2 separate regions of the Homo sapiens genome follow, and region 2 is linked to region 1. Evidence: fine-mapped expression QTL. A gene starts in region 1. The other region holds a variant in brackets. All regions are shown on one strand. Distances are from middle to middle. Region 1 holds the start of LYRM9 (LYR motif containing 9). Region 2 overlaps LINC01992 (long intergenic non-protein coding RNA 1992).

The links. PIP is the estimated chance that this variant, and not a neighbour inherited with it, causes the effect. A credible set is the group of variants that fine-mapping cannot tell apart.
Region 2: its variant is the best candidate, but not a certain one, in a credible set for the expression of LYRM9 in testis (GTEx, PIP 0.81).

Annotation. Positions count from the first base shown.
Region 1 is chr17:27,885,440-27,901,098 of GRCh38, forward strand. LYRM9 (LYR motif containing 9) reads right to left here and starts at 7,926. Exons shown (of 4, transcript NM_001076680.3): 1 at 7,878-7,926. RefSeq lists silencers at 127-276, 7,558-8,107 and enhancers at 2,644-3,595, 3,596-4,547.
Region 2 is chr17:27,916,253-27,931,911 of GRCh38, forward strand. LINC01992 (long intergenic non-protein coding RNA 1992) reads right to left here. Exons shown (of 5, transcript NR_146896.1): 3 at 15,285-15,441; 4 at 14,355-14,473; 5 at 12,672-14,223. Among named protein-coding and RNA genes, the nearest start is that of LYRM9, 31 kb to the left of the region's middle. RefSeq lists an enhancer at 1-84. The variant G/T (reference allele first, on the strand shown) is at 6,831.

The DNA.
Region 1 (15,659 bases):
ATGGCTCACGCCTGTAATCCCAGCACTTTGGCAGGCTGCGATGGGTGGATTGCTTGAAGCCAGGAGTTTGAGACCAACCTGAGCAACACAGGGAGACCCTGTCTCTACAAAAAATAAAAAATTAACTGGGCATGGTGGCATGCGCCTGTAGTCCCAGCTACTCAAGAGGCTGTGATGGGAGGATCACTTCAGCCTCGACTGCAGTGAGCTGTGATCACACCACGGCACTCAGCCCGGATGACACAAAGTGAAACTCTGTCTCAAAAAAAAAAAAAAAAAAAAAAAAAAGAATTCATTTGGGCCCTAAAACCATCTACCTGAAGGAAGTCCTTCCCCTAGACTTCTCAATGATCTGGGCCAATTAATCCCCTTTCACCAAAGCAGCTGGGGTTTGTTTTGTCACTTGTATCTCAAAGGGTACTAACTGATGGACAGATCCTCACAAATTCTTCCACAATGCAATCTGATGACTCCAGCTGTAAGGCAGAGTCGGACAGGACAGGGCTTCTCAAGTTCCTCCTGCTATCAATCATGACCATGCCAGTCCGACTCACCACCCAGAAATCAGAGGGGAACCCGTTCAAGGGTGGCCAAGACCATCAGGAGCAACCACAGGAGACATACCACCAAAGTCCCAAACCTGATGGGTAGACTCCACTGGCAGGCTTCCCCAAACTATATAAAGTAGTAATCAAATATTGTAAAATGCTAGTCGCGGAACAGATGGTTACCATCTGCAGTCCTCAAAATTAACATTTGGAAAGAGCACAACTTTGTTTCATTACTTAAAAACTCAAGCAATACTTAGTAACCAACCCAGCAAGTATGGGCGGCAGATTATTTTCAGCTCAATTATAATACTTAGTCATTCTCAGTAATAACTAGTAGAGAATACATGTGTGGGTCCACTTAGAAGAGCTAAACTAAAAATGTTTTAATTTAATTTAAAGCGTAGGTTTGCTATTATTTAAGGGGCAATGAACCTCACAGCATCATTGCTAAAACTGCAGTCAATGCCTCTGGGCCTGGCAACACTTGCCTCCCTTGCCCTGCCCTTTGGACTTGATCTTGGCCTCTGCATCCTGGCTCCCTGCCTCTGTGATGGCTCCTCCATCTTCCCAGGCAACCAAACCAAAATCATCACAGTCAACCCAGGTTCCTCCTTCTCCTCAATCCCCATGCCACTGGTTTCTTTCTTTTCTTTTCTTTTTTTATTTTTTTTTTTTTGAGACAGAGTTTCGCTCTTGTTGCCCAGGCTGGAGTGCAATGGCGCAATCTCGACCGCAACCTCCGCCTCCTGGGTTTAAGCAATTCTCCTGCCTCAGCCTCCTGAGTAGCTGGGATTACAGGTGCATGCCACCACACCCAGCTAATTTTCGTATTTTTAGTAGAGATGGGGTTTCTCCCTGTTGGTCAGGCTGGTCTCAAACTCCCGACCTCAGGTGATCCACCCACCTTGGCCTCCCAAAGTGCTAGGATTACAGGCGTGAGCCACCACACCCGGCCCCATGCCACTGGTTTCTAATTCCTATCAAATTCCACCTCTGAATGCCCCTCATATTTTTCCCTTCCTCTCTACTCCACTGCATACCCTTGGTTCAGACTCTCTCTGAGACAACTGCAACAGCCCCTAGCTGGTCTCCCTGTCTTCCAGTCCATTTTCTGCCATCCTTCTCTGCCCAACAGCCAGAGTGAATCTTTCTAAAACATAAATCTCAAAGTGTCCTGTCCTTCCTAAAACCCCTAATATCCACCCCTGCCCCCATCATTCATGGCAACTTTTCCCAAAATGTAGAACAAATACCTGAAATTACTTTAAGTAGTATACAGCCAGTATTTTTTATTGTAATGATTTTATATTTATTTTCATGTGTAATGAGGGGGGAAAAACACGTTTTCATAGGTATTAATGGCCTAAAGCAGTTTTTTCAAATGCTCATAAAACTGATTTTTTATGTATCAAATTGAAATGTGGACCCGGCAAAAATCATGAGGGTCCTGAAGTGTGGAAAGCACTGGTCTACAGAATAAAATCCAGGCTCCTGTCCATGGCCTGCAAGGCCCCTCTCGATCTGGCCCCTACCTACCCCTCATCTGCACCTCTCACCACCCACAGCCTAGTCCAGGCAAACTGAGCCCTGTATGGCACACTCCACAACAGCCCATGCTGTGTTTGCCTGTTATGGTCTCAGCACTGGGGCAGAATGTCTGGCATGGAGTAGATGTACTTACTCATTGGGGTTCTCCAGAGAAACAGAACCTATAGGAGGGAGGGTGTGTGTGTGTGTGTGTGTGTGTGTGTGTGTGTGTGTGTGTGTGTCAGAGAGAGACAGAGGTTTATTACCATGAACTGGCTCATGCAATTATGGAGATTGGCAAGTCCAAAATCTGCAGAGCCAATGTCCCAGTTCAAGCACAAAGGCTGGAAGCTGCTGTAGAACCAGGAAGAGCTGATGTCCCAGTTTGAAAGCCACAGGCAAGAGAATTCTCTTACTCAGGGGAGGCTTAGACTTTTCGTTTAAGGCCTTCAATGGATTGGAAAAGGCTCACCCATATTATAGAGGGCTGTGTGCTTTACTCCATCGAACAATTTAAATGTTAATCTCACCCGCATTGAAACACCCAGAATAATGTTTGACCAAATACCTGGGCCTCCTGTGGCCCAGCCAAGTTGACACATAAAATTAACTATCCTGGTAGACATTCAATTTCTATTTTGAACGAATCCTCCTACTTCTGCCTACAGTGCTCCTCTCTGCTTCCTGAATACCTCCTGCCTCTTCCACACTCAGCTCTGTGGTCTGGCATCTCCTCCTCAGTGCCACCATGCTCAGTGGGAGGCCTGTGGTTACCTTGAAACAGCCTTCATCACCCCTCATTACTCTAGGTCAGGCCTCTAGTTCAGGCTCTTGCTGGGGTTGCTGGAAGGGTATCCACCTGCCCTCAGGCCCCACCAGCCATTCTCCATATGGTGGTCACAGTGATTTACCAACTTCCTGAATGAAAATCTTCACTGGATGTGAAACGATAGTGTGAATTATGAATTTTCTTGGGTTATAAGACCGATGTGGTTATGTGGGAGAATCACTTTACTCTCAGGAGACGCAGGCAGAAGGATTTAGAGGTGACATGTCATCAGGTCTGCAGCCTCCTTTCAAATAGTTCAGCAAAAGACAGCACAGAGAGAAGAGTGAGGAAGATGAAGAAATGCAGCAGAATGTTCAGATCACGTTTAGATGGTAGGCATTAAGGGTGAACACCATGCTGTTATTTTAACTTCCATATATTTGGAAAATTTTCCTAATAAAAAATCGCTTTAAAAACACACCTGGCAGGAAGTCACCCAGCTTTTCTCCCTACATGTGCTCCAAGTGGCAGGAAACTCACAAGTCCCCCATTTTCGCTCTGCTCAAGCTATTGGAAAGTCCCTCCAGTTCTGAGTTAAAATTCCCCGCTGTAAAGTTCTACTCACTCCACAAAGAGCTCTACTCTTTGGGACAAAATCTTCCCTCACCTCCTCCCAAGCCCAGCTTTTCATTATTCACAGTCAACTATCCCAGCCCCTCCCTAGTCCCTTTTCCAATGTAAGCAGCGGGGAGGTGCTGTCGCCTCTCAAAGTGTCTCTGTCCCACTTGCCCTCCTCTCAACACACGTACCTTTATTTTTGATACCACTCTTAAACCTGCTGTCCCATGGGAAAACAACAGTTTGGCCATGCTCTGACCAACTCCACAGGCAGTGGCCCTGTCACCTCCTTTGACCTGGGAATTCAAGGAATGCAGCTCAGACTGCTTCTCTGCTGGGGCCCTCACGTGGCCCTGGCATTTGGCTCAAAGGCATTTTTCCATGTGCTGCTCTTTTTTTCTTTTTTCTTTTTTTTTTTTTGAGACGGCATTTCGCTCTCGTTCCCCAGGCTGTAGTGCAATGGCGCAATCTTGGCTCACTGCAACCTCTGCCTCCCGGGTTCAAGCAATTCTCCTGCCTCAGCCTCCCCAGTAGCTGGGATTACATGTCCATGCCACGATGCCCGGCTAATTTTTCTATTTTTAGTAGAGACGGAGTTTCGCCATGTCGGCCAGTCTCAAACTCCTGACCTCAGGTGATCCACCTGCCTTGGCCTCCCAAAGTGCTGTGATTATAGGTGTGAGCCACTGCACCCGGCTCCATGAGCTGTTCTTAAGTCTCTTTCCCCATCTTTTATTTTATGAGGTCATTCCAGAGTCACAATCTGCCACCATCCTTAGGGGGGTCTGTTATATCAACTCAATTCAACAAAATAAGAGCACAGAAACAGTCACACCCCAGGTAAACACAGGGTAAAGACAAAGAGAAAGACAGTAACCCTATATACTGTAAGCATCAGTCAACTACGCCATGCCATTCAGAGCATCTAGCACCTGTACAACTCTGGACCCAGCCCTAGGACCACAGAGATGAACAGTCTGGTGTACCTAGCTCTCTGACCCAGAGCCTTCTGCAAAGCCGATGGCTCCCATCCAGGGAATGAGTAGGACATGCCAAGTTTGAGAGCTTTTCATGTTACCTCATTTAATCCTCACAACAATATTTTAAGGGAGGTATCATTAGTCCCATTTTATAGATGAGGAAACTGAGGCCCTGAGAGGTTAAGTAATTTGCCAAGAGCAACAAGGCTAGTATAGAGCAAGGCCCGGAATAGAACCTAGGTCTATTTGATTCCAAAGACTATGCCCTTATCTGCTTCGTGAATCTACCTGCTATGTCTGAGCCACTCATAAAAATACTGACCAGATCAGGGCTAAGGACCCCACAAAGAACTCTGGCAGGGTTCATGCATGACCAGGTTCAAGCACTTATAAAGGCACTTGACTGCACTATTATCCAGTACTCCTCAATCTTCTCTACAAAACCTTGCTCCATGCCTTTCTGAAACCCAAGGACATCGTCTGCAGCTTCCCCCTGCATATAGATGGAAAAAAAAAATCAAAAGAAAGAAAGAGTCACCAGGCTGACATCAATTACACAGATAAAGGAAAGGAGCAACTAAAGAAATGCTTAACAACAAAGCTCTTACCAAATCCAAAGGAGAATATGACAGAATTTTTAAAAAGAGAAAATAAAGCTACAAAGGGAATTTCCTGGAAGCCAAGTGTTATCACTGGCACAGATGTTGAGAAGCAGGCCCACAGTCCCATTTAACCCCACTGTCCTTTTCCCTAATCTATGTCCCGATATAGGCACCTAAAAATAAGTGGGAAAAAGTCATATATTAAAAAAAGACGAAAGAATGGAACTGCAGAAAATAACCAGAAATTATGCCCTATTGAGCACTGATACACGCTAAATTAAGCCTGCACAGGCCATTTTTTAAATATGCAATTACTCTTCTTGAAGGGAAAAGTTGAAAAATAGGAATGGAGTGGTTTTGCTTCCCACCCCCACCCACTCCAGGGCTCCATCTTGCACATCTGTGTTCTCCCAAGCTAGCAATGGGGCAGCAATCCCTGCCTCCCCCAGTCCCTCTCCTACATAGCCAAGGCTCTAAAGTCCCCTCACCCCCTCCCTGCCCCCTTCATCCCTGTTGGCATTACCTTGGTTCCCAGCTTTGTACCCATACCTGGCTGGGACTATCCGAATACCTCCTGATCTGTCTCCCTCCTTCCAGCCCAATCCACATGGTGCCACCCAAGAACACTTCCTAAAAAGCACACCCTGTCACTCCCCTTCCTCAGAACCTCTGTAGAGAGTTCTCTACCCATGGCCTTCTGAGATCTGTTTCAATCCCTCTCATCAGTCTCCCCTCCTGCTGTCCTTCCCACACTTCCTGCATTTTAGCCACAGACTGAACTTGGAGGACTCTGGGATCAGACAGTCTGGGTTCAAATCCTGGTTCTATCACCTGCTAGTTCTAGGACCCTGGACGAGTTTCTTAACTTCTATCTCGAAGTCTGTTCCCCATCTGTCAATGCGGTCCCTAATAAATAGTATTTCCTACATAGGACTGTTGTAAGGATGAAATAACGCTCCTAGACTACTAAGCATGATGCCTGGCACACACTACATGTTTCCTACTAACTGTTATTGTTAATACCATCTCTGAAACATGCTGTGCTTTCCCCTACCTTGACTTCTTCACCTGCCTCAAGAATTCCCCTTCATCCTTAGAGATCCAGTTCCCTGTCACCTCCTTCAGGCTTTCATCCCATGCTGTTCACACCCCTATTACAGTCATCACACTGCTCTGTAATCACTTATTGTGATTATAATCGATGTGACAGAACTTAGAGCAGGTTTTGGAGACAAAGAACCCTAGTTTAAAAGCCTACCTCTGCTATCTACTAGCTGTGTAATCCTGGCCAACCTGGTTGACTTCTCTGGACTTCTGCTTCCCCCACTGTAAACTGGAGAAAAGAATAACCCACCTCACAGGGGTTTTGTAAAGACCAACCTAGCTAACTTATGGAAAGTGCCTAGCACAGGGGCTGGCACATCTTAAGTGCTTGAACATCTTTTTTTTTTTTTTTTTGTCCTGAGACAGGGTCTCACTCTGTCACCCAGGCTGGAGTACAGTAGCATGATCAGGGATCACTGCAGTCACAACTGCCCGGGCTCAAACGATTCTACCTCAGCCTCTCAAGTGGCCGGGATCACAGGCACACGCCACCACGTCTGGCTAATTTTTTTAATTATTTATAGAAACGAAGTCTTACTATGTTGCCCAGGCTGGTCTCAAAATTCTAGGCTCAAGTGATCCTCTTTCCTCAGCCTCCTACGGTGCTGAGATTATGGGCATGAGCCACTGCGCCCAGCGTTGAACATCTTACCCTTTCCTACTTTATTTGGCTTTCTGTTCCTTGCTGACTGTAAGCTTCTGAAGAACAAGAAACTATACTGTATTAGTTCAACACCTGTGAAATGAAGGGAAATTAGTAAGAAAAATATATATACGGTTATTAGTCACTCCTCCACAGTTTATAGTACCTGAACCATAACAGAAGTTCCATAGATGTCAATTGATTCCCAAGTTACCAGAGGAAACTAAAGCCAGCAGGAAACTGTCCTGAAGTCAAGAACCTATGGCAGGTGAACCCAGAAAACATTACGCTAAGTGAACAAACCCAGTCACAAGGGGCTACTTAATGTATGATTCCATTTATACGAAACATCCAGAATAGGCAAAAGTACAGAGACAGAAGTACATTGGTGGTTGCCTAGGGCTGGGAGAATGGGAGTAGATGGGAGGGGGGAGTGACAGCTAAAGGAGGTGTTTCTTTTGGGGGGTAATGTTCTAAAACATTATGGTGACAGCTGCACAACTCTGCAAACACACTAAAAGACACTGAATTGTGCACTTTAGATGGGTGAACTGTATGCTTCGTGAATTATATCTCAATAAAACTTTTTAAAACAATAACCACAAAAAGGATCAATCCTAGGAGCGAAAGGGTTTTGGCCACGGAGCAACTTGCTCTTACGCAGAAGCATAAATCATCACGACAAGGTTGCTCCGGCCACCGGGTGCCGCGGGCAGAGGGACGGTGGAGGGGACATTCTCCTTTTAAAAGTGGCCAGGCCCGTGAGCCTCTGAGAGGCTGGCCTCCGGGCTGCCCCGGACCTCGCGCCCCTAGCTCGCGCTGCAGGCCTTTCCTGCTCCTCCGAGGCCGCCCGGCCAGGCCTGCGTCAAGCCCGGGCGCCGCGCTCCGGTGCACTCAGCTCTCCGGTGGAAGAGCGCAGACCGCAAGGGAAAAGGTGCCGGCGCGGGTCGCCCCTAGGTCTTCAATAGATCCGAGGACACCCGAGGCCTCCACATCCCTAGCCCGCCCCCGCCACCCAGTGGCTCCGGCCGCCGCTGCCCCCGCGCCCCCGCCCTCGGCCTCGGCCTGCGCAGCGCGGCTCACCAGCCTCCAGGGGAACGCCAGCCCCGGACGCCGCCGCGGCGACGAGTGCGCCTGCGCCCCGGGGACTGAGCGGCACCGCCCCTGCCCGGCGACGGTGAGCCCAGCGCCCTCTGCCGGCCGCGCGCGGGACTCGGGGTCCTACTGGGTGCCTCTTCCTAGATCCGACCCCACCCAGTTGAAAGCTGTCCCCACTAACAGCCTTCGTTACCTGTTACCTCAAACACCCACTCTGCCTTCTGGCTGTTGCTACGCCGGATATAAGCCCTAAAGGCACTCTCTCCTCCTTATTCCTGAATATGGATTGTGCTATGAATATGGGGTGTTCAAGATCTCTGAAAGGCTTGCTGGAGGACTTTTCCTGAACCTCTCGTGTTGATGACAAGAATTGTGTTTGGATAGGAATCTGCGTTTTGAATCATTTCACCAAATTACAGTCCCATAACACCTGTCAAAAGAATAAATATGACAGTAATAAGCATGCTTCCTTTCAGACCCATCTATAATTATAATTGAGGAAAATAATACAAAATTTAAACTTAGAGCTACTGCCAGTATCATTCTTTGAAAATGAAATAATGCTGTTTATTAAATAGGCTCTCCCTGCTCTCTAATGTTTAAAGCTCAAGTGCTTCTCTGAATTGATTTAAATACAAGTTTTATATCCTGAAAGAAATCAAGATGAGTCATTATCTTAAGACAAACCCCCCTGTTCAATGATGCTGCTGATCTCTCAGCTGATGTCTAAGCGGGAGTTAGGTTGTTAGTGGATAATATTGCTTCTGTTCACGTCTCTCTTCTCCAGGGCTTTTTAAACCTGTTTGTAACGAAAAGGCTGATTTCCTTCAGACTCCATGTGTCGTTGATTTAACAGGACAACTTCTTACAGGTTTTTCTTTTTCCTTTTTCTTTTTTTTTTTTTAAGTAAAACATTGCTCCCCGGTGGCACCTGGGAATCTGTTTTTCTTCTCTTAGGATAAGAGAAGCAGGGATATTTCTTAACGGAAGTTTTGTTTTGTTCCTAACTCCCTTTAGAGCTTCCTCTTTTCTTTTTTTTTCTCTTCACCTAACATACTAGACTTCCCTCAAATCGGGGGTGGGGGATGGGAAGGTGGGGTTCCCTCCCTTGAAATATTCAGATAATTGCTTCCATTTATTTTAAAGATGTAGACTTGGACAAATATATCTGAAAGATACAATTGTACCCTCATAAATCAGCCCTCTTATTTACACATGCATAATCAAGGGCACGTCATTAATGCAGAGCCAATCAATAAATCATTAAGCTTTTAAAGCCCTTATTAAGAACAATCTGCAGTAACATCATCCACTCCTGTGCTCAGTCTTAGGATCATTTAATAATTTTAAGAAATTTCACAGTCTGTTCTGTAGTCTCATCTCCCTTTTGTTCCTAGATAGCTGTATTCCTGCATCAGAAACATGGTTCTAATACCTAGATCTCATAAAATATTGAAGATGCAAGCTGTTTGCTTTACCTCTGAAAGGCTCCACCTTCAGAATCACTTGTGCCTCTTCCAATTTTACAAACGCACAAGATTTTAACTTTCACAACAATTTCTTATAAACATCCAAATACTAAGAAAAAAAAATCCAAAGTAGGAGAGATTTGAACAATAATCTCTAATTTTTTTTCCAAGTCACAATGGAAACCTAGATTTGAAAATAATTGAATTTGAACCTTTCAACTTGACAGCAACCTTAGGTTCTTACAGCTTCAATAGTAAAATGAAATAATTTTTACTAGTCCAAACATTCACTTAAAATGACACCAGTCTCATAATCTGATAAAACCCCAACCATTTTTACCATGTCATTTTCCTATACACTGAAATTTTAGCAGATGAACCCCCTTATGTCAGACAGTGCATGATATTTACAGATAAACAAAATAGAAAGACCTTTTACTTGAGAAATTAGTCACCCACTGTCCAGGGGACATGTTCGCACAGGGGAGTTTATTGACTTTCCTAAGAAATACACCACATTCTCTTGATTTCTGACATTATGTCATTTAGCCTGACAACTGCAGATTTGTAACCAGTATTTGTAGGGAAAGATACAAGAAGTCCTGACGTTTCCAGTTTAAACCTGTTTTTAGATTTCAAAGAGAAATGATAACGTTTGCATCCTCTGATTAAATCAGGTTATTGTCTCCAAGGGTGACCATGTAAATAATTCAAATTAATTCATCAGTGTACAATAGGTTTAATAAGCATAATAAACACTTTTAAGAAAATACTTAAGACCCTCGGTCTGCCCTCGATCTTGCTCCCTATTATCTCAGATTTCCCTGAGAACAGAATGAGTGGTACCACGTTGTTCTCTTCTATTCAAAATATGCAAAGCTGCTATTTACCAGCTTGCAATTTGCATGTCTCAAATCCTGCCAGAACACAGGGTGAGGGCCATGGGGTGATGGGTGAATATGCCAGAAGAGGACACCAGGGGCGAAAATGGAAAATGGGGTGAACAGATTTTCCTTACCCCAGCGTATTGCAAAACACAACTCTTGCTGACTACTCAAGATTTAAGACAATAAAAATATTGGGTATGAAAGGTTATGTGAAATCTCAGACATCTAGTTTGTTTTTCTTTAATTGCTGGGCAAAAGAAAGGGATGAGCAAGGATTTCAATATTTTTATAAAAGGGAACACAAGAGGAAAAAGGGTACAATTGTGACTATTTACAACATACACTTGGAGATTAATTTATGGGCTGGGTTTCAGCCTTCCTGGTCCTCCATACTATGTTACTTTCTGCAGCACCATAAATCCAACTTTGCTGACTGGTATATGTCATTCTCTGTTTCTAGTGTGTTCTGTAGTAATTTATTAACAGTGACCACATGTGAAACCACATTGGTGATCAGATGTATGTTATCTCTGAATATGTCCCCACTTTTTTTATCTCTTGAAAATATGTTCTATGTCTCATGATTTCAAATTGTAAATAACATACACACATACACATAATGTTTTGTATGAATCACCTTTGGAATGGAATTTCTTTTTCATAAAAATTTCAAGTGCATGCTGGATGTGTATGTGGCAATATTACCAAAGGAGTGAATGCGCTTGGGAACATTCTTCTTTTTTGCATTTTGACAGCATTTGACTAAAGATCCACTTAAAATTACCTTGCTCACAAAGTGTAATTCTGTTTCCACTGACTATATCTGCAGTGTCTTGAGATGTCCAGAGACAAGAATTACATGCCACCATTAATAGGAATGGAGACGGTAAGAAATAATCAACTTTATTAAATAGGATTATTTGAAGAAAGAGGAGAGACAAAGGGGTGAAGAGGAGAAGGAGAGAAAGAAGAAAGTGAAAAGGAGGGAAGTGGAGAATAAGTAAAAGTAGAAGGGAGTTATCCTGTTGATGCTGTCCCCAAGAGAAAGGGATGATAGAGTTTTAAGTGTAGCAGCCCAGAAAAAAAAAAAAAGGCAACGTTAATGAAGGGAAATCATTTATCGGCTTGGCCAGGAAATTGGGTGTTCTGGTCAGTCAACTACATGGTTAATAGTTACCTTCCACTTCAGCAAACATCTGTTGAGACTCCTTCATGTGCAAAACTCCATGCAAGACCCTGGGTCATAGCGGAGGCCTCTGAACTCTATCCCTGCCATGCGGGCTCTCCTGTCCTTCTCCACTATGGTTAGAGACAGGTATAGTCTTGTCGCTGTCCTGCTGTAGTCCCCTTAATGACTTCTCCGTGTTCTCTGAATACATACGCCAAACTCCTTACCATGTCCTATGAGGCCCTCCAGGGTCTGGCCTCTTAAGCTTCCATCCATGTCCCCGTCCTCTGTAGCAGCCACAGTGGCCTTTCAGACACTCATTGTATCGTGTCCTTCTGCCCTGCTCCTCCTTTAGATCCCAGCTAATAGATCTCTTCCTCGCCTTCCCTGACATCCACATTCCCACCCCATAATGGAGCAGGTCCCCCCACCCAAAGAGTAGACTGTACTTTTCTCCATGGCATGCATCACAATTTATAGTTACATATACCCCAATTTGGACTCCCCCCAGAGAGGCCCCCAAAGCAAGGATTTGAGAACAACTAGTTCATTTGAAAGGTGGTTCTAGAAAACACTAAGTGAGAAAATAGGGAAGTGAGGCTGGGTACAGTGGCTCACACCTGTAATCCCAGCACTTTGGGAGGCCAAAGTGGGTGGATCTCCTGAGATCAGGAGTTCAAGACCAGCCTGGTCAACATGATGAGAGCCCCATCTCTCCTAAAAATACAAAAATTAACTAGCCAGGCATGGTGGTGATAGCTTGTAATCCCAGCTACTCAGGAGGCTGAGTCAGGAGAATCGTTTGAACCCAGGAGGCGGAGGTTGTAGTGAGTGCGCCCTTACACTCCAGCCTGAGCGACAAGAGTGAAACTCCATCATAAAAAAAAAAAAGAAAGAAAAGAAAAGAAAGAAAGGAAGGAAGGAAGCGGGGAAGTGAGGCAAGGAAAAGAAGGCAGCCTGTGAAGAGAGCCTTCCCAAGCAAGTTACCACCAGGGACCACTGAGCTTCGTCCTGCTGGGGAAACAGTGTGGAACCCACACCTTGGTTATCCCACCCTGGGGTATTTATACACCAATTCCTGTTTGTTACAGGTCACACAGTGCTCTCGGGGGCACTAACTCCCTGGTACTTCTAGCCTGCCATGATCTCAGGCAAAGAGATACAGATGCTGGCAGTTGGAAATCAGCCGGGTATACTGCAGTGGTAAGGCGAAAGGGTGGGGCACTGACAGTTGTGGTAGTTACATATACATGGACATTTACACATAATACATACATATATATGTGTGGGTACATGTAGATAGATATGCATTTGTGTTATTATATCAGTCATATCTCTCTCTGCACTAGAGCCCCATGAGTGAGAGCTGGGACTGAGTAGCAGTATCCCACCCAGTGCCTAGGCCTCACTTCCTGTGGTCCACCATTAAAATCACTCTCTTACCAACACCCTCAACTCCCTGGTTCCTCTTGGCCTCTGTCACACTCACTCTGGATGAATCTACCATCCTCCTTCTCCAACCTGCACCCAAGCAGATTAATGCTGAGAAAATTACACAACAGAGCTGATGGGTTTTACTTTAAATTTATGATCCAATCCTCAAAGGCATAATGGATGTTGCCTGGGAAGAAAATAACTCTGTTTCTCAGAACTCCTACACCCCACCTCCACCCTCAGTCTCAGCAGAGGACCTCACTGAAAGATAGACATCATCAGATCTTCTTCTCACTCCTTCCCCTTCTTTCCTGATATGCTGTGGAAAGTTTCCTTCTGCCTTTGAAAAACCGGTCCTTGGCTGGGCGCGGTGGCTCATGCCTGTAATCCCAGGACTTTGGGAGGCCAAGGCAGGCAGATAACCTCAGGTCAGGAGTTTGAGACCTGCCTGACCAACATGGAGAAACCCCATCTCTACTAAAAATACAAAATTAGCCGAGCATGGTGGCGCATGCCTTTAATCCCAGCTACTGGGCAGGCTGAGGCAGGAGAATCGCTTGAACCCAGGAGGCGGAGGTTGCAGTGGGTGGAGGTTGAGGTGGGCAGAGGGTGCGGTGAGCTGAGATCACGCCATTGCACTCCAGCCTGGGCAACAAGAACAAAACTCCATCTCAAAAAAAAAAGAAAAAGAAAAAAAAACGGTCCTTCTGCTGGTTCCCTGGATTCAATCCCTGTGTGTTCCTCAAATCTTTGCTCCTAGAGTTATCCCCTCTCTCCTGCTTCATTAATCACCCCCTTTCCACCTGTTCATTCTAAGCAACATACCAATGTGATCGAGGGACTTGCTACTCAAAATGGGATTCATGGATCAGCAGCCTGGGCCTCACCTGGGAGCTTGTTAGAAATGCAGAATCTCCCACCTGGGCCTGCAGAATCAAAATCTGCATTTAGCAAGATCCCAAGATGGTTCCCAGGCACATCAAAGTCAGACAAGCAATGGGCTAGGGGTTCCCATTAAAACAAATTAACAGAAAGCACACATATCCACATCCCACACCCATATGAGATTGCTCCATATCCCCTACCAGATAGATTTCTATTTCTCTACTCTCCCTTATAGCCAAGATTTTATCCTTTCATTCAAAAAACGAACACCTACCAGGTACCAAGCAGTTTTCTAGGTTCTGGGGAGACAGAATAAATAAAACCCATTTGATCAGTGTGCATGTGTGGTGTCTTAGGAGCAGAGAAAACAAAGAAAGAAAGAAGACATGATCAGGTCATAAGTGAGTGCTTTGCAGAGAAATAAAATGTGGTCATGTGGTCTTCACCAGATGGCTACTGTAGATCACTCCAAAGAGGTGACATTTAAACTGAGATCTAAGTGACAAGAAGCCGTCATTAGAGTTGTCTACAAGGGAAGCCTTAATTTCTCACTTACCATTCCCCCATTTACCCGTCAGCCAATACAGTTGGTTTCCATCTCGTGCCACTGAAACTGCTTAACAAGGTTTTCAATGACTTCCATGTTGTCACAAGTAATAGCTCATTTTCTGTCCCTTAAAATGTTGTAAAGTGAGTTAGTCACCTGATTAACCTCTTCCTTGCCATACATTGTTCAATGTTAAAATTAAAGGCTTTTCTGGCTGGGCAAGGTGGTTCATGACTGTAATCCCGGCACATTGCGGGGCTGAGACAGAAGGATCACTTCAGCCCAGGAGTTCAAGACCAGCCTGGGCAACCAAGTGGGACTCTTGTCTCTACAAAAAATTAAAATATTTAGCTGGGCGTGGTGGCATATGTCTGTGGTCCCAGTTACTCAGCAGTCTGAGGTGGGAGGATCACTCGAACCTAGGAAGTCAAGGCTGCAGTGAGCTGTGATTGCACCACTGCACTCCAACCTGGGTGACAGAGGAAGACCCTGCCTCAATTTAAAACAAAAAAAGAAAAAGAGACTGGGCACAGTAGCTCACTCCTGTAATCCTAGCACCTTGAGAGGCCAAGGCTGGCAGATCACGAGATCAGGAGTTCGAGACCAGCCTGGCCAACATGGTGAAACCCCGTCTCTACTAAAAATACAAAAATTAGCTGGGCTTGGTGGTGCACACCTGCAATCCCAGCTACTCAGGAGGCTGAGGCAGGCGAATCACTTGAACCCAGGAAGCGGAGGTTGCAGTGAGCCAAGATCGCACCATTGCACTCCAGCCTGGGTGACAGAGCAAGACTCTGTCTCAAGGAAAAAAAAAAGAAAGAAAAAAAAAGACTTTTCTGGATAAGGGAAGAGGTGGCAGGAAAGATGAAAGGGAAGGAGATAAATTAGATAAATTTTACTCAAGCATAAATATATCATTTCAAATTCAGTAAAAAATACATTTTATTTGATTTTTTTTTTATACTTTAAGTTTTAGGGTACATGTGCACATTGTGCAGGTTAGTTACATATGTATACATGTGCCATGCTGGTGCGCTGCACCCACTAACTCGTCATCTAGCATTAGGTATATCTCCCATTGCTATCCCTCCCCCCTCCCCCTAACCCACAACAGTCCCCAGAGTGTGATATTCCCCTTCCTGTGTCCATGTGATCTCATTGTTCAATTCCCACCTATGAGTGAGTATATGCGGTGTCTGGTTTTTTGTTCTTGCGATAGTTTACTGAGAATGATGATTTCCAATTTCACCCATGTCCCTACAAAGGACATGAACTCATCATTTTTTATGGCTGCATAGCATTCCATGGTGTATATGTGCCACATTTTCTTAATCCAGTCTATCATTGTTGGACATTTGGGTTGGTTCCAAGTCTTTG
Region 2 (15,659 bases), 31 kb after region 1:
ATGCACTTATAACAGTGCCCAGCATACAGCCAGTGTTCAATGGAGATTCGTTATTATGATGGCTATTTATGTTTCACATGGGAATGTTTGCATAAAAGGAGTCTTTGCCTACAGCCAAAAATCTTAAGCTAAAGCTGAGAGATGTGCTCCATATGGCCTCACAAGTCCTAAGTGCCATTTCTGGGTACTGGTCATGGGCCTGTTCTGAATTATTTTGCAAAATGGGATCCAAACCAAGAATCTTTACTGTGATAGTGGTCATTTATCATTTTGGCATTTGTCAAGCATCCATTTCCCTTCAAAATAGTATCCCAGGCTGGGCATGTTGGCTTATGCCTGTCATCCCAGCATTTTTGGAAGCTGAGGCAGGAGGATTACTTGAGCCATGGAGTTCAAGACCAAACTGGGCAACATAGTGAGATCTCGTCTCTACAAAAAAAAAAAAAAAAAAAAAAAAAATGGCTTGGTGTATTAGTCTGTTTTCACACTGCTATGAAGACATACTACCTGAGACTGGGTAATTTATAAAGGAAAAGAGGTTTAATTGACTCACAGTTTCACATGACTGGGGAGGCCTAAGGAAACTTACAATCATGGTGGAGGGGGAAGCAAAAAAATCCTTCCTCACAAGGTGGCAGGAGAAAGAAGAGTGAGGAGGAAGGGGGAAGAGCCCCTTATAAAACCATCAGATCTCATGAGAACTCACTCACTGTCATGGGGGAAACCATCCCCATAATCCAATCACTCCCCTCCCTCCATATATAGGGATGTATAGGGATGACAGGTCCCTCCCTCAACACGTGTGGACTGCAATTAGAGAGGAGATTTGGGTGGGGACACAGAGCCAAACCATATCACCTGATGTGGTGGTGAACACCTATGGTCCCAACTGCACTAGAGGCTGAGGCAGGAGGATTGCTTGAGCCCAGGAAGGCAAGACTGCAGTGAGTGGGGTTTGTGCTATTACACTCCAGCCTGGGCAACAGAGCAAGACCCTGTCTCAAAGAAAAAAGAACAGCATCCCAATTTCCTTTTGGGAAATAAAGCCTCCCTCATTTTCTGCAGTTGGTAACTCCTAGCACCTCTCCCTGGATAAGCCCAGCTCCTCTCTCCCTGTCCTAGTATAGACAGGGGCAGCCCACAGAGTGCTTTTTGCTGTGAGCTGCCCCACATCAACAATATTCTTCTAATCTTTTCCTTTGGTTATAAGTCGGTGAGAGTCCATTTCTGTTGCTTGCAACCAAAAACCCCACTGATAAAATTCTTATTCCTTCCCTTCCTTTCTCCCCTGCTCCTCACTCCAGGCTTTCCTCCAAATGCCACCAGAATACAGAACAGACCACATGGTCAGAGGAATTGCACTTCTATAGAGTTTGAAGTGAGAAAGCAGCACATGCTCCATAAACAGGCTGAAATCGAGGTCCCTTCAGCTGCAACTGAAATGTTACAAGAGAGACAGATCCCACGGTGGAAACCAGGCTTTGTAATGACAGAGCCCCGGATTCAAAATCCTGCTGTATGACCTTGTGCAATTACTTAGTTTCTCTGATCATCAGTTTCCTCATAAGTGTACACACACACACATACACACATACAAACATTTTTTTTTTTTTGAGATGGAGTCTCGCTCTTTTGCCAGGCTAGAATGCAATGGCGCAATCTCGGCTCACTGCAACCTGCATCTCCCAGGCTCAAGCGATTCTCCTGCGTCAGCCTCCTGAGTAGCTGGGACTACAGGTGCGCTACACCACGCCCAGCTGATTTTTGTATTTTTAGTAGAGACGGGGTTTCACCTTGTTGCCAAGGATGGTCTCGATCTCTTGACCTTGTGATCCGTCTGCCTCGGCCTCCCAAAGTGCTGGGATTACAGGCATGAGCCACCACTCCCGGCCCACATTTTTAAAATAAAAGATATGTTTTAAGTAATTGGCTTACATGATTGAGGGGGCCAGTAAATCTGAAATCTTTTACTTGAAGTCAACTGACTTGTAGATGGTAACCATGTCTACAAAATGCTTTCACAGCAACACCTAGATTCATGTTTGATTACATAACTAGGTACTATAGCCTAACAGAGTTGACTAAGAAAACTAACCGTCACAGAGATCATAACACTACTTTGTATCCTTGAGTATTAAACAAGCTAAATGCTTATAAAGTACTTAGCACAGTGCCTGCCATTTATAGGAACGCAATAGGCAGTAGACTCTTTTCTAACAAGCGTTTGTTAGAAAGGCATTTTCTGTTAGCAGAGGCAGGAAAGGATAATATAATAGCATTCATGCAATGTGCTGGAAACCAGGCTCTATCCTAAGCACTTTATAAATATTAACTGATATTTACTGATTTTATTTAATCCCCCAACTACCCTAAGAGTTAGGTAATCTTATTTAGATGAGGAAATAGTGATCCAGAGAGGTTAAGTAAATTGCCGAAGGTCACACAGCCAGCCTGTGGTATGCCAGTAGGCAAGTAACTGCCTCTCTGAATCAGGCTGCCCATGAGTGGTCTCTGCAGCATGTATTACCCAAGAGAATGTCTTCCCAAGTGTCAACTCCAGTTAAAACCTTGAGATAAAGTGTGCCCTGCCCTATCACTTTAAGGAAAACTCCACCCAATCCCACAAACATGGCCAGATTTAGTTGCCAGTATATTTTTGAAAAATATTTTAGGGTAGAATATCACACCCCCACCACACTCCCCCCTCTACTCCACCATCTCCCCATGATAAGAAAAAGCCAACACCTTTCCATCTAAGAAAACTTGGCGGAGGTCCCTCCCCACACACAAAGAATGGCTGCTTCTACGCACTTCTATCAGGAGCGTCGTACAACTAACGAACTTTCCAAACAAAGAAACAGCAAGTCAGAAATAAAATCATGTGCTAATTGTGGTTTTCCTGGAATGGATGACTATATAATATTCTAATCAAAAAGCTGGAATCACATTTGCGTTTAGACAAGGCTTGTTAGAAAAATACATGAGAATAAAAGGAGGCCGTAAGACCACGGGTGCTTCTCCCAAGGCCAGTCATTACTGCTCAGGGCAGGCAGCCAGCAAGTGGGAAGTTGCCCAATTTTGGTCAAGTCCAGAACTCCAGGGATGCCCCCTTGTGTCCACTAGCTCTCTTAGGGGCCCCCAAATCCTACTTACACTACGGCCACCTAACAGCATTCAGGCAGCTCCCATATCAGTTTGCAGTTAGCGGGAATCCTCTCCCACAGCAGGTGTTCTTTTTTCCTTTTCAAAACCATGCTGGAAATTTAATATTCAGTAAAATAGAGTGCCATGATAATGTTTAAAATCCGGCCAGGTGCAGTGGCTCATGCCTATAATCCTAGCACTTTGGGAGGCCAAGGCAGGCTGATCACTTGAGTCCAGGAGTTTGAGACCAGCCTGGACAACATGGCAAAACCTCATCTCTACAAAAAATGCAAAAATTAGGCAGGGCACGGTGGCTCACGCCTGTAATCCCAGCACTTTGGGAGGCTGAGGCAGGTGGATCACCTGAGCTCAGGAGTTGAGACCAGCTTGGCCAACATAATGAAACCCTGTCTCTACTAAAAATACAAAAATTAGCCAGGCACAGTGGCGGGCGCCTGGCTAATCCCAGCTACTCAGGAGGCTGAGGCAGGAGAATCGCTTGAACCTGGGAGGTGGAGGTTGCAGTGACCCAAGATCACGCCACTGCACTCCATCCTGTACAACAGCAAAACTCTGTCTCAAAAAAAATAAAATAAAAAGAATACAAAAATTAGCCGGGCATGGTGGCACTTGCCTGTAGTCCCAGCTACTGGGAAGGCTGAGGTGGGAGGATTGCTTGAGCTCAGGAGGTCGAGGCTGTAGTGAGCCATGATTGCACCACTGTACTCCAGCCTGGGCAACAACAGAGTGAGACCCCGTCTTGAAAAGTGAAAAAAAAATTAAAAAATAAAAAATTAATAAAATAAAATTAAGAGTCAAGGAATTTCTAACTGTGACTGCTTTTATTTGGGTGGAAAATAATTCCAATGTAACAGGTATGGGATCATAAACATATAGGAAGACACCCCCAGGTGTGACTTCCTCTTGTAATAAGGAACATCTCAAACAGGCCATGGGCCATGCATGCTAGGGTAAAACTGTGATGTACACAAATCTAAACTTGCTAGAGCTTGATGTTTTCCTTCCATCTTTCCTTGCTCCTTCTTGATATCAAATTTTTTCTATCCTCCCCAGAAACGGGGCCCCCGGGTCTAGAGATTGGGATCTTCTGGTTGGGCAATGGCTCCTCTACAAGGCAATTTCAAAAGTCATTCTCTATTCTGTACCAAGTGGTGGAGATTAACATTTCAGACAGGCATGATCCCAGATCCTGAGGATTAATTTGGTAGTGTTTGAGTGATATCTACCGGTTACGCCCTGGGGTTTGGCTGTCTCCCTTGTCTTTATCTGTCAATGTCAGTGTCAAATTAGGGAGAGAAAGAAAATAGGACAAGCCAAGGGCAGCCTTTCTGGGAGTTATGCCAGGCTGGCAAGATGAGGCAGACAGGGCAATGTGCTAGCAGGTCACGACTGGGTCAGATGATAGAGAAATGGGGTGTCTGCAGGGACACACATGGGACTTTGGGTTCAGAGGACTGAGCTAAGGTCAGAAGTTGGGGAGGTGAATTGGAGTCTGTGTTCAGAAATCCATACTGGGTATGATGGTGTGGTCTGAGCATGACAGACAGGCCAGTCACAGAGAGGAACAGAATCAAAATGCAACTCCCAGGCCTGAAGATGGGAAAAAAAATGCAGCGTATGAATAATCGTCACACACATTTCATTCATTGGTTCTTATCCCTGTCAACTCCTTCAGAGCCACAAGGCCCCTGCAGATACTCCTGCCCCACCTTCCAGTCACTTCCAGGCATCCAGAGGGATTCTAAAGGGATGGCCTCACAAATGGCTGCTGTGGCCCCGACGAACACATGCTTCGGCACTGATTGCCTCTCCATGCACCACCTGCCTCCCATGCACCCAGGCAAGGTGCCGTGTGCCCAGATGGCTGCAGTACCCTCTGCCATGCTCACCACCTCTCCCAGGCCTTCCCACTGCAGGCCATGTCTATATCTCTCTGCCTGTGGGCTTTCTGTGGTGACGGGACCCCACCCCCTCTTCACACAGCAGGATGCAGGAGAATTCACAGCCCCTCTAGCTGCCCCAGCAGCAGCCCCCAGCCAATGACTGAAGGAGTTGCTGTAAATACCCCACCTTCCTCATCCCTAGGACAAGGTCAATTGAAGGAACATTTCTACATGGGCCTTCAAGGTTCCCCAGGAAAACTAAGCTACAGTTGACCACAGTGGTAACTTGCTTGATAATGCATGTCTTAATGGCTGCTTTTCCTTCCCTGTCCCACTTTCCTATGTCTTTACTGGTGTTTCCCAATAAATTACTTGCACTTGAATGTTTGACTTTGGCTGTGACAGTCTAAAACATTTCCAGCCTATCTCTCTGACCTCCTACTGTTGATTCTTCACACGGCAGCCTGAGTGGTCTTTGTAAATTATTTATTTATTTATTTATTTATTTATTTATTTATATGAAAATAGAGTAGAGACAGGCTCTCACTATATTGCCCAGGCTGGTCTTGAACTCCTGAGCTCAAGCAATCTTCCTGCCTTGGCCTCCCAAAGTGCTGGAATTACAGGCATGAGTCTCCATGCCCGGCCCTGAGTGTCCTTTGATAATATCAATCAGGGCAGATCACGTCCTTGCTCAAAACTTTCCAAGAATAAAAATGCAAAACACTTCCTATGGACTGTGAGGTTCTGTGCAACCTCTGTGATCTGGCCCCTGCTCTACCTCTCCCTTCACTCCCTCTGCTCCAGCCACAACGGCCATCTCGCTGTCCTTCAAACGCTCTGAGTTCTCTCCTGCCTTCAGTCTCGTGTGCCTGCTTTTCCCCTTCCTGGAGAACTCTGCACTTAGACCTCTGAGGGGCTCACTCCTTGTCAATGTTATTCAAGTGTCAGCTCAAAAATCACCTCCTCCAAGAAGCCTTTTCTGACTACCCAATCTCAGATAGCCCTGTTCTCAACCCCCTGCCCAGTTAGTCTTCAACACTGATGACTACCTAAAGCTCTCTTGGGTATGTATTTGTTGACGTGTTAATTTTATGCCTCTTGTTCTCACCCTGGTGCCTAGAACATTGCCCAACACATAGTAGGCACTTGATAAATATTTGTGGAATGAAGAATGATCCAAGCAAGAGAAGAAGAGAAATTAAGACAATGGCAATAGCAATGGAGAAGAAGAGATCAATTGGGAAAATATATAGGGGAGGGAAGCAGTGATATCAGATGACCTATTAGATATAGAAGGTAAGGGAATGGAGGCTGACACCAAGCTTGAGAGCCTGCAGGGATAGGGATGCCATTCACCACAACAGTGAGTGCAGGAAAGGGCCAGGCCTGGAGGGAAAGATGGTGAGTTCATGTGGACATGATGCATGTGAGAAGTCCATGAAATGTCCAAATGGAGATGTCCAGCAAAGGGTTAAAAATATAGGTCTGGAGCATCAGAGAAAGGAGGAAACTAAAGATTTGAATCTGGAAGGGGTCAGCAATGTGCAATTGAGCCTGTGGAATAGAATGACATCACTGGAGGAAAACATTAGAGAAAAGTTTGCAAACTAAGTTGCTTTCAGGGACCAAGAAAATAATTCAGATGAGTGAAGTAGCTCAAATCAGAACTATAAAGAGTGGTGGTTAGTGCAGTGAGAATTCAAAATAATATCTGCCTTCTTGAAAGACTTTCATAGTAAACGTTATTTAAACACTATGGGGGCCAAGCAAAACAGGTCT[G/T]GTGTAGGCCACTAATGTGAGGCCTTTAATGTAGAATGAGAAGTTTCCCTGTGCTACTAGACCCTGAGAACACCAACATTTAATAGGCAGGCATAGAATAAAGAGTTTCCAAATGAGACTGATGAGGAGCAAGAAGAGAGGTGGGGTAAACCCAACAAGAGTCATGGTGCAGAAGTCAAAGAAGTCAGCATTATCAAATGCTGCCGATGGGTCCAATGGAGTGGAATCCAAAAGGATCCCTGGATTTAGCCAGAGGGAGTTCATTAATGGCAAGAGCAGGAGCAATGTCAACAGGAAGGGAGTGGAAGACAGAAGCCAGGCACAATTTGATGAGAAATCCATGGAAAATGAGGATGTGGCAACAGTAAGAGGATAGGCCATTCTTTCAAGAAGTTCGTCAGTGAAGGAGAGGACGGGGACCCAGTAATTTCATCCTGGATATGCAACAGAAATGAGTACTTGTGTGCAAAAAAATGTAGAAAAAATGTTGATAGTAGCTTTATTTATTTATTTATTTATTTATTTATTTATTTATTTATTTATTGAGACAGAGTCTTGCTCTGTCACCCAGGCTGGAGGGCAATGGCACGATCTCGGCTCACTGCAACTTCCACCTCCCGGGTTCAAGTGATTCTCCTGCCTCAGCCTCCTGAGTAGCTGGGATTACAGGCACCCGCCACCACGCATGGCTAATTTTTTTGTATTTTTAGTAGAGATGGGATTTCACCATGTTGGCCAGACTGGTTTTGAACTCCTGACCTAAAGCGACCCGCACACCTCAGCCTCTCAAAGTGCTAGGATTACAGGTATGAGCCACTGTGCCCGGACAGCTTTATTTATTTATTTATTTATTTATTTATTTATTTATTTATTCATTTATATTTTTGAGGCAGGTCTCACTCTGTCACCCAGGCTGGAGTGCAGTGGCATAATCTCGGCTCACTGCAACCTCCATCTCCAGGGTTCAAGTGATTCTCCTGCCTTAGCCTCTTGAGTGAGGTTGGGACTACAGGTGTGCACCACCACACCCAGCTAATTTTTGTACACAACGAACTCAGCTAGGAAGCTGGAAATACTCTGTATCTTGGATTTGGGTGGTGGTTCCAGGGGTATATACCTATGTAGAAATTCTTTAAGCTGTACACTTAAGATTTGTATAAACATAAGATGTGTGTATGGCTGGGCACGGTGGCTCATGCCTGTAATCCCAGCACTTTGCGAGGCTAAGGCGGGTGGATCACCTGAGGTCAGGAGTTTGAGACCAGCCTGGCCAACATGGAGAAACCCCGTCTCTACTAAAAATACAAAAATTAGCTGGGCATGGTGGCACTTGCCTGTAATCCCAGCTACTCGGGAGGCTGAGGCAGGAGAATCACTTGAACTCTAGAGGCAGAGGTTGCAGTGAGCCAAGGTTGCACCATTGCAATTCAGCCTGGGCAACAAGAGTGAAACTCCGTCTCAGAGAGAAAAAAAAGATGTGTGTATATAATACTTCAATTAAAAGGTGAGAAAATAGGCCAGGCACAGTGGCTCACGCCTGTAATTCCAGCATTCTGGGAGGCCGAGGCAGGTGGATCACTTGAGGTCAGGCGTTTTTTTAATTGTTTTTGTTTTTCTTTTTGTTTTTTTGAGACGGAGTTTCGCTCTTCTTGCCCAGGCTGGAGTGTAATGGCGCGATCTCGGCTCACCGCAACCTCCGCCTCCCGGGTTCAAGCGATTCTCCTGCCTCAGCCTCCTGAGTAGCTAGGATTACAGGCATGTGCCACCACCCCAGCTAATTTTGTATTTTTAGTAGAGACGGGGTTTCTCCATGTTGGTCAGGCTGGTCTTGAACTCCCGACCTCAGGTGATCCGCCCGCCTCGGCTTCCCAAACTGCTGGGATTACAGGCGTGAGCCACCGAACCCGGCCGAGGTCAGGCGTTTGAGACTAGCCTGGCCAACATGGCAAAACCCCATCTCTACTAAAAATACAGAAAATTAGCCGGGCATGGTGGTGGGCGCCTGTAATCTCAACTACTTAGGAGACTGAGGCAGGAGAATTGCTTCAACCCAGGAGGCGGAGGTTGCAGTAAGCTGAGATCATGCCGCTGTACTCCAGCCTGCGTGACAGAGAGAAACTCCGTCTCAAAAAAAAAAAAAAAAAAAAAAAAAAAAAAAAACCACTGAGAAAATAAAGGAGAGAAAGAAGACATTTGGCTGAGGAGGAGACTGGGATTTTCTTTTAGAACCAGCTCAGTTCCTGCTTTAGGTCTAATGTTAGAGCTGCTGTGGACATTTTGGCACAGAAGAAAAAGTTGAAACAAAAAAAGACTATCACAAATTATGTATGAATTACAAGGGAAAAATGGTAACTTTATTTATTTATTTTTTGAGACAGTCTTGCTCTGTCGCCCAGGCTGGAATGCAGTGCCATGATCATGGTTCACTGCAGCCTTGAACTCCTAGGCTCAAGAGATCCTCCCACCTCAGACTCCTCAGTAGCTAGGACTAAAGGTGCACACCACCATGTCCAGCCAATTTTAAATTTTTCTGTAGAGACGAAGTCTCACTTTGTTGCTCAGACTGGTCTTGAACTCCTGGACTCAAGTGATCCTCCCACTTCAGCCTCCCAAAGTGCTGAGATTACAGGCATGAACCACTGTGCCCAGCCCAAAACAGTAACTTTATAGTAGAGAAAAAGCAAGAAACCAAAGCTAATCTCACCAATACTAGAGCAAACTGACATCCTGTGTCCACTGATAGGATGTACTGGGAAGGACACAGTATCATTTCAGTGGTATTTCTGTCAAAAATACAGAACCTGAATTTTATCATGAGAAAATAATAGACAAGTCCAAATTTAGGTACATTATACCATATAACTGGTCTTAATCTTCAAAATGTCAAGATAAAAAAAACACAAAGAGGGCCAGGTGCAGTGGCTCACGCCTGTAATCCCAGCACTTTGGGAGGCTGAGGCGGGCGGATCTTGAGGTCAGGAGTTCGAGACTAGCCTGGCCAACATGGTGAAACCCTGTCTCTACTAAAGATACAAAAAATTAGCTGGGCGTGGTGGCAGGCACCTGTAATCCCAGCTACTTAGGAGGCTGAGGCAGGAGAATCACCTGAACCCAGGAGGCAGAGGTTGCAATGAGCTGAGATTGCACCATTGCACTCCAGCCTGGGCAACAGGGTGAGGCTCTGTCTAAAAAAAGAAACAAAGAAAGGCTGAGAAACTGTTCCAGATTAAAGAAAATTAAAGAAACCTGATAATTTAAAACAGTATGTATTCCTGAAGTGGTTTTTGGACCCAGAAAACATCTGTAATGGGCATTATTGTGATAATTGAAAAAATAATTAAATATGAACTATACATTAGGTAATAGTCTAGTATCAAGTGTAAAATTTTTTTGATTTTGATAACTACTATGGTTATATGGTTGTCCTTAGGAAACATACACTGAAGTATTTGGGAATAAGGGGGCATGATGGCTTCAACTTGCTTTTTTTTTTAAGAGATGGGGTCTCACTATGTGTCCCAGCCTGGGCTCAAACTCCTGGGCTTAAGTGAGACTCCTCCCTCAGCCTCCCGAGTAGTTGGAACTACAGGCATCAACTAACTTTTTAATGGCTTAGAAAAAATGCAGAGAGAGCAAGTGAGTGAAAAAGAGAAAACAAATGGGACAAAATGTGAACAATTGGTGAATTTGAGAGCAGGTTATATGGGAATGCCTGGTACTATTCTTGCAACTTTTCTATAAGTCAGAAATTATATCAAAACAAAAAAGTATCAAAAATAAACAATACTCCCCAGACATGGTGGTTCATGCCTATAATTCCAGCACTTTGGGAGGCCAAAGTGAGAGGATCAGTTGAGCCCAGGAGTTCGAGACCAGCCCTGGGCACGTGAGACCCCTTCTCTACAAAAAATTTAAAAATTAGCCAAGCATGGTGGCACTCATCTGTAGTCCCAGCAACTCCAGAGGCTGAGGCAGGAGGATCGCTTGAGCCCAGGAGCTCCAAGCTGCCATGAGCCCTAATAGTGTCACTGCACTCCAGCCGGGGCAAAAGAGTAAGACCCTGTCTCAAAACAAACAAACAAATCAAAGCATGACAATTTAATAAACAAAAACAACATTGTGTCTCTATAAAGTTTTTTAAAATTTTTAAAATAAGATGTGGTACCTTTGATATAAAAGGGAAGGGCCCAGGCCAGTCTTGTGAAAGCATAAAGAAAAAACACCCTTTCTCCCAGGGCCACATGCCTTTCCCAGCTTGAATCAGGGAATGAGAGAGGCACCTGGGTCCCAGCATTCCTGGACAAACAAACAGAACACACCAGACAGCTAAAGGACCGCAGCCCTGGCTTTGGGGATTTCTTGGTTATGGCATTTCAGAATTTTTGCCAGTAATAATTGTCCAAACACACACACACACACACACACACACACACACACACAAGAACCTTGCCACAAGGGACTAGCTTGAGACTAAGCTATTTTCACCTTGGAATGATAATATATCAATCAGTGCGGTCAAGGTCACAAGCTTTGGAGTTTGTTTTTTTCTGGGTTCAAACTCCAACTTTACCACTTGAGAGAAGGATGTCCTTGGGCAAGTCCACTTGATCTCAGTGGATTTCACCTTACTCATCCTTAACACAAGGCTTTAGTAGTACCTATCTCACAGAGCCATTGTGAGAAATAAATGAAATAATGAATGCCAGGTACTCGGCACTATCTCTGCCTCACAGAAGGCACTCAATAAGTGCAAACAAATATGTAAAAAACAGTAAAATGATTCTAGGAGTTAGATGTGTTTCAAAAGCTGGTTAAGGGGCTGAGGACTTTCCTAGGAATAACTTGTGCTCACCGAATATTTACTCCATGCCTGTCACATGGAATATTTGATCTCATTTAATTTTCAAAACCACCCAATGAGTCAAGTATTATTTGTATTTTACAGACAAGAAAATAAGATCTAGAATGGGTAAGCTGTTTGCTGAAAGTCCCCCAGCAAATAAGAGTTGGATTATTCCAGAGCAAGCTTGTCCAACCCACAGCCCACAGGCCACATGCAGCCAGGAGGGCTTTGAATGCAGCCCAACACAAATTCATAAACTTTCTTAAAACATTATGAGGTTTTTTGTGATTTTTTTTTTTTTTTTAGCTCATAAGTCACTGTTAGTGGTAGTATATTTTATGTTTGGCCCAAGGCAATTCTTCTTCTTCCAATGTGGACCAGGGAAGCCAAAATATTGAACACCTTTGTATAAGGCAACCCAGTTTGGTGCCAAGACAAAGAGGTTGAGGGATGATATGAGCACCATCAAATGTCTGTCTTCAAGACTGTCCTTCAACTGGTAACCTAGAAGGTCCCAAGTCTAAATGGGGATCAAGTGAGTTGGGCCAAGTGGGCTGCAATGGCTTTTGAAGGAAGCCAACCAAAGCTATTGCCTAAGATATCCCAGCCTGGGTTCCAGAAGCTTAGACCGCAACCAGTGATGACTCCAAAATGGGGCTGGCTGCTACTGGAAGCAGTACCCTTGGCACAGATAGAAAAGTTGTCAGCAATGGGCACTGGCCACCTTAGCATGGATGCTGGCGGGTACCAGCAGCCATGCGTCTTCTGCTGATATCAGCAGGAAGCACCTGGTGACAAGCTGAAGTCTTAGAGCAGGAATTTGGAGATGGAGGGCTTGAGGGTACGGATAAGAGGACCAGACTAGGGGACACCTATCAACACCACTGCCAAGGACTCTCATCACAAAGGGGGAAGTGGAAGCAAAGCAAGAAGAGAACTACTGCTTGGTAAGAGAACTGCTTTTTTTTTTTTTTTTTTTTTTTTGTCACCCAGGCTGGAGTGCAGCTGCAGGATCTGCGCTAACTGCAACCTCTGCCTCCTGGGTTGAAGCGATTCTTCTGCCTCAGCCTCCTGAGTAGCTGGGACTACAAGCAGGCGCCACTACGCCTGGCTAATTTTTGTATTTTTAGTAGAGACAGGGTTTCACCATATTGGCCAGGATGGTTTCAAACTCCTGACCTCATGATCTGCCCACCTAGGCCTCCCAAAGTGCTGGGATTACAGGCGTGAGCCACCGCGCCTGGTGAGGACTCCATTTTCTACCCCTAGGCTAAAGAGCCTGGAGGATTATAGCTTACAGAGCAGAGAAGAACTCTGATACTCATACCTGCATAGTGCTAGCTAGTCAGTAGACAATACTTAGATAATTCATTTTCTGATTTCTGACATTAGTGAGAGGTTGGGGTTTTGTTTGTTTAATAACAGCCTTCATTTAGATCTTTGCAAACAGCCTTGAATGAGGAATGTCCTTATGTTTCAGGGAACATATCAGGCCTGGAAGCAGCTTTTTTAGGATAAAGCTCACTCATTGAACTTCAAATGCACTGACTCCAACCATTTCCTAAAATAAGGAAAATCTGTCTGCACAGACGGCATTTTCACTCTCCTGAATGTTTTCTGTTGGTTGGTTGGTTGGTTGGTTTTATTGGTTGGTTGGTTTTGATACAGAGTGATACAATATCATGAAGAATATTAGTCAGAAATGGGGCACAGGTCTCAAGCAGGTCTTGGGACCTTGGGCTATTAATCTTTCTGGGCCTTAATTTACTTATCTATAACATAAAAGGACCTTAATATATGATTGAGAAGGCCCAAACCACCTTTAAAATTTAGATCTGTGTCTCCCCATCAGACCTCTCTGGAGACACAGGATCTTATTCAACCTCACACAGATTCTTGGGTTTCTGCCATTCACATCTACATTGAAAATTCTCCCATAAACTTTATACAAGTCCTTATGGAATCATTAAAGCTTTGCAAGAAAACAACAGTACCCATTATAAAAGCCCAAGAAACAGAGAAGAAAATCATGTTTTATAACCCAAGAAATCTGTCCAAATCCTAGAATTTTTCTTCAGAGTACATCACAAGAAGGAACAGTCTCTTCCTTCCTAGTGGGAAAGTCAGGGTTTCTTTCATTTCCACCTTGTTCGCTTGTAACCGCTCTCACCAGGCAAAGTTCTGAGCAAGTGAGATGGACTCATCTCGGAACTCCAGGCTGTGTTTACATAATTGGTAAAAGAAACATTCCAATCCCATTCCTTCGTCAGCTCCGACAGACCAACCAGCATCCCCCTCCCACTTGCCACTTTGATAGGGGTGACTGGTATCTCCATCTCCTTATCTTTGTTGATCATGTTTCTGGGTTTCCAATTGCGTCAATTTAACTGGTTGCCAATAATTCTGTCATCTGAGGGGAAAGCAGAATCTCAACTGAACATGCAGATGTCCTATTGAGACTTTGCCCATAAGGGAGCGTCTTTGGTGCTTAAAATTCCATCTTTTGGACCTCATATCAGTTGATGTTTTTAGTTGCATCGGAAACCAACTCTAAGTGATTTAAGCAGGAGAGAAAGTTATTTAAGGATATTTATAGTTCACAGAATCTCTGGAGGAGCGGGGGGCTAGAAAACCAGACTTGAAGACTACACAGAGAGACTCCGAGTCCCCCTGGGACTGACCTGAGATGACCAGGGAGCTGGTATTTTTAGCTTCCAGAGGTAAATAACAGCCTTCACTTCCATCAAAACTCATTAGGTAGAAAACACACCAAACATGGGAAAGGCGTTCCGGAGCTGGGCTACCAAAGAGAATAATAAATGTTCACTATAGTTTCATCTTCTAGTTTTGTACCATCCCTGAAACATTTTCTTTTTCCTCCAGGAGCCTCAAAATTACAGTTAAGTCTACAGTCAGACAGAAGGAAACTGGCATTTATTAAACACCAACTTTGTGCCTGGAAGATTCACTTACAATATCATAATCTTTACAATAACTCTGCAATATGGATCTCATTATCAGCATTCTTTTTTTGTTTGTTTGGTTGGTTGGTTTTGGTGGTTTTAGTGTCAGGGTCTCACTCTGTTGCTCAGGCTGGAGCATGGTGGCATGATCATAACTCACTGCAGCCTTGAACTCCTGGAATCAAATGATCCTCCCACCTCACCTCCAAGTAGCTGGGACTACAGGCATGCACCATCATGCCCAGCTAATTTTCTTTTTCTTTTTTTTTAAGAGGTAGGATCTTGCTATAATGCCCAGGTTGGTCTCAAACTCCTGGTATCAAGTGATCCTCCCATCTTGGCCTCCCAAAGTGCGGGAATTACAGGTGTGAACCACTGCACCCAACCTCATTCTCAGCATTCTTATTATGTTTTGTCTTATTATCCTCCAAGGATAGGTTAAGTAATTGTTATGGGTTGAATTGGGTCTCCCCAAAATTCCTATGTTAAAGTCCTAATCCCAGTATCTCAAAATGAAGGTAAGGTCTTTATAGAGGTAATCAAGTTAAAATGATGTTATTAGGATGGGCATTAATTCAATATGACTAGTCTCCTTATAAAAAGCAGACATTCACACACAAGGACACATGCACACAGGGAATATGATACCTGAGATTAGGGTGATGCGTCTGCAGGCCAAAGAATGCCAAAGACTGCCAGCACACCACCAGAAACTGGGGGAGAGGCATGGAACGGATTCTTCTTCACAGCTCTCAGAAAGAACCATGCTGCTGACACCTTGATCTTGGAATTCTAGCCACTGGAACTGTAAAACAATAAATTTCTATTGTTTAAGTCATCTAGTTTGTGAGACTTTATTACCATTGCCATAGCAAACTACTACAGGAATTCACCTCAATTCTCATAGCGAATGAGAAGCAGAACCAGATTTGAACACAGGTCTGGCCAATTCTAACACACCAGCCTCTTCACTATGACTGTATCATAATTTCCCTCCACCAAAAACTCTGGGGTGGTCTATAG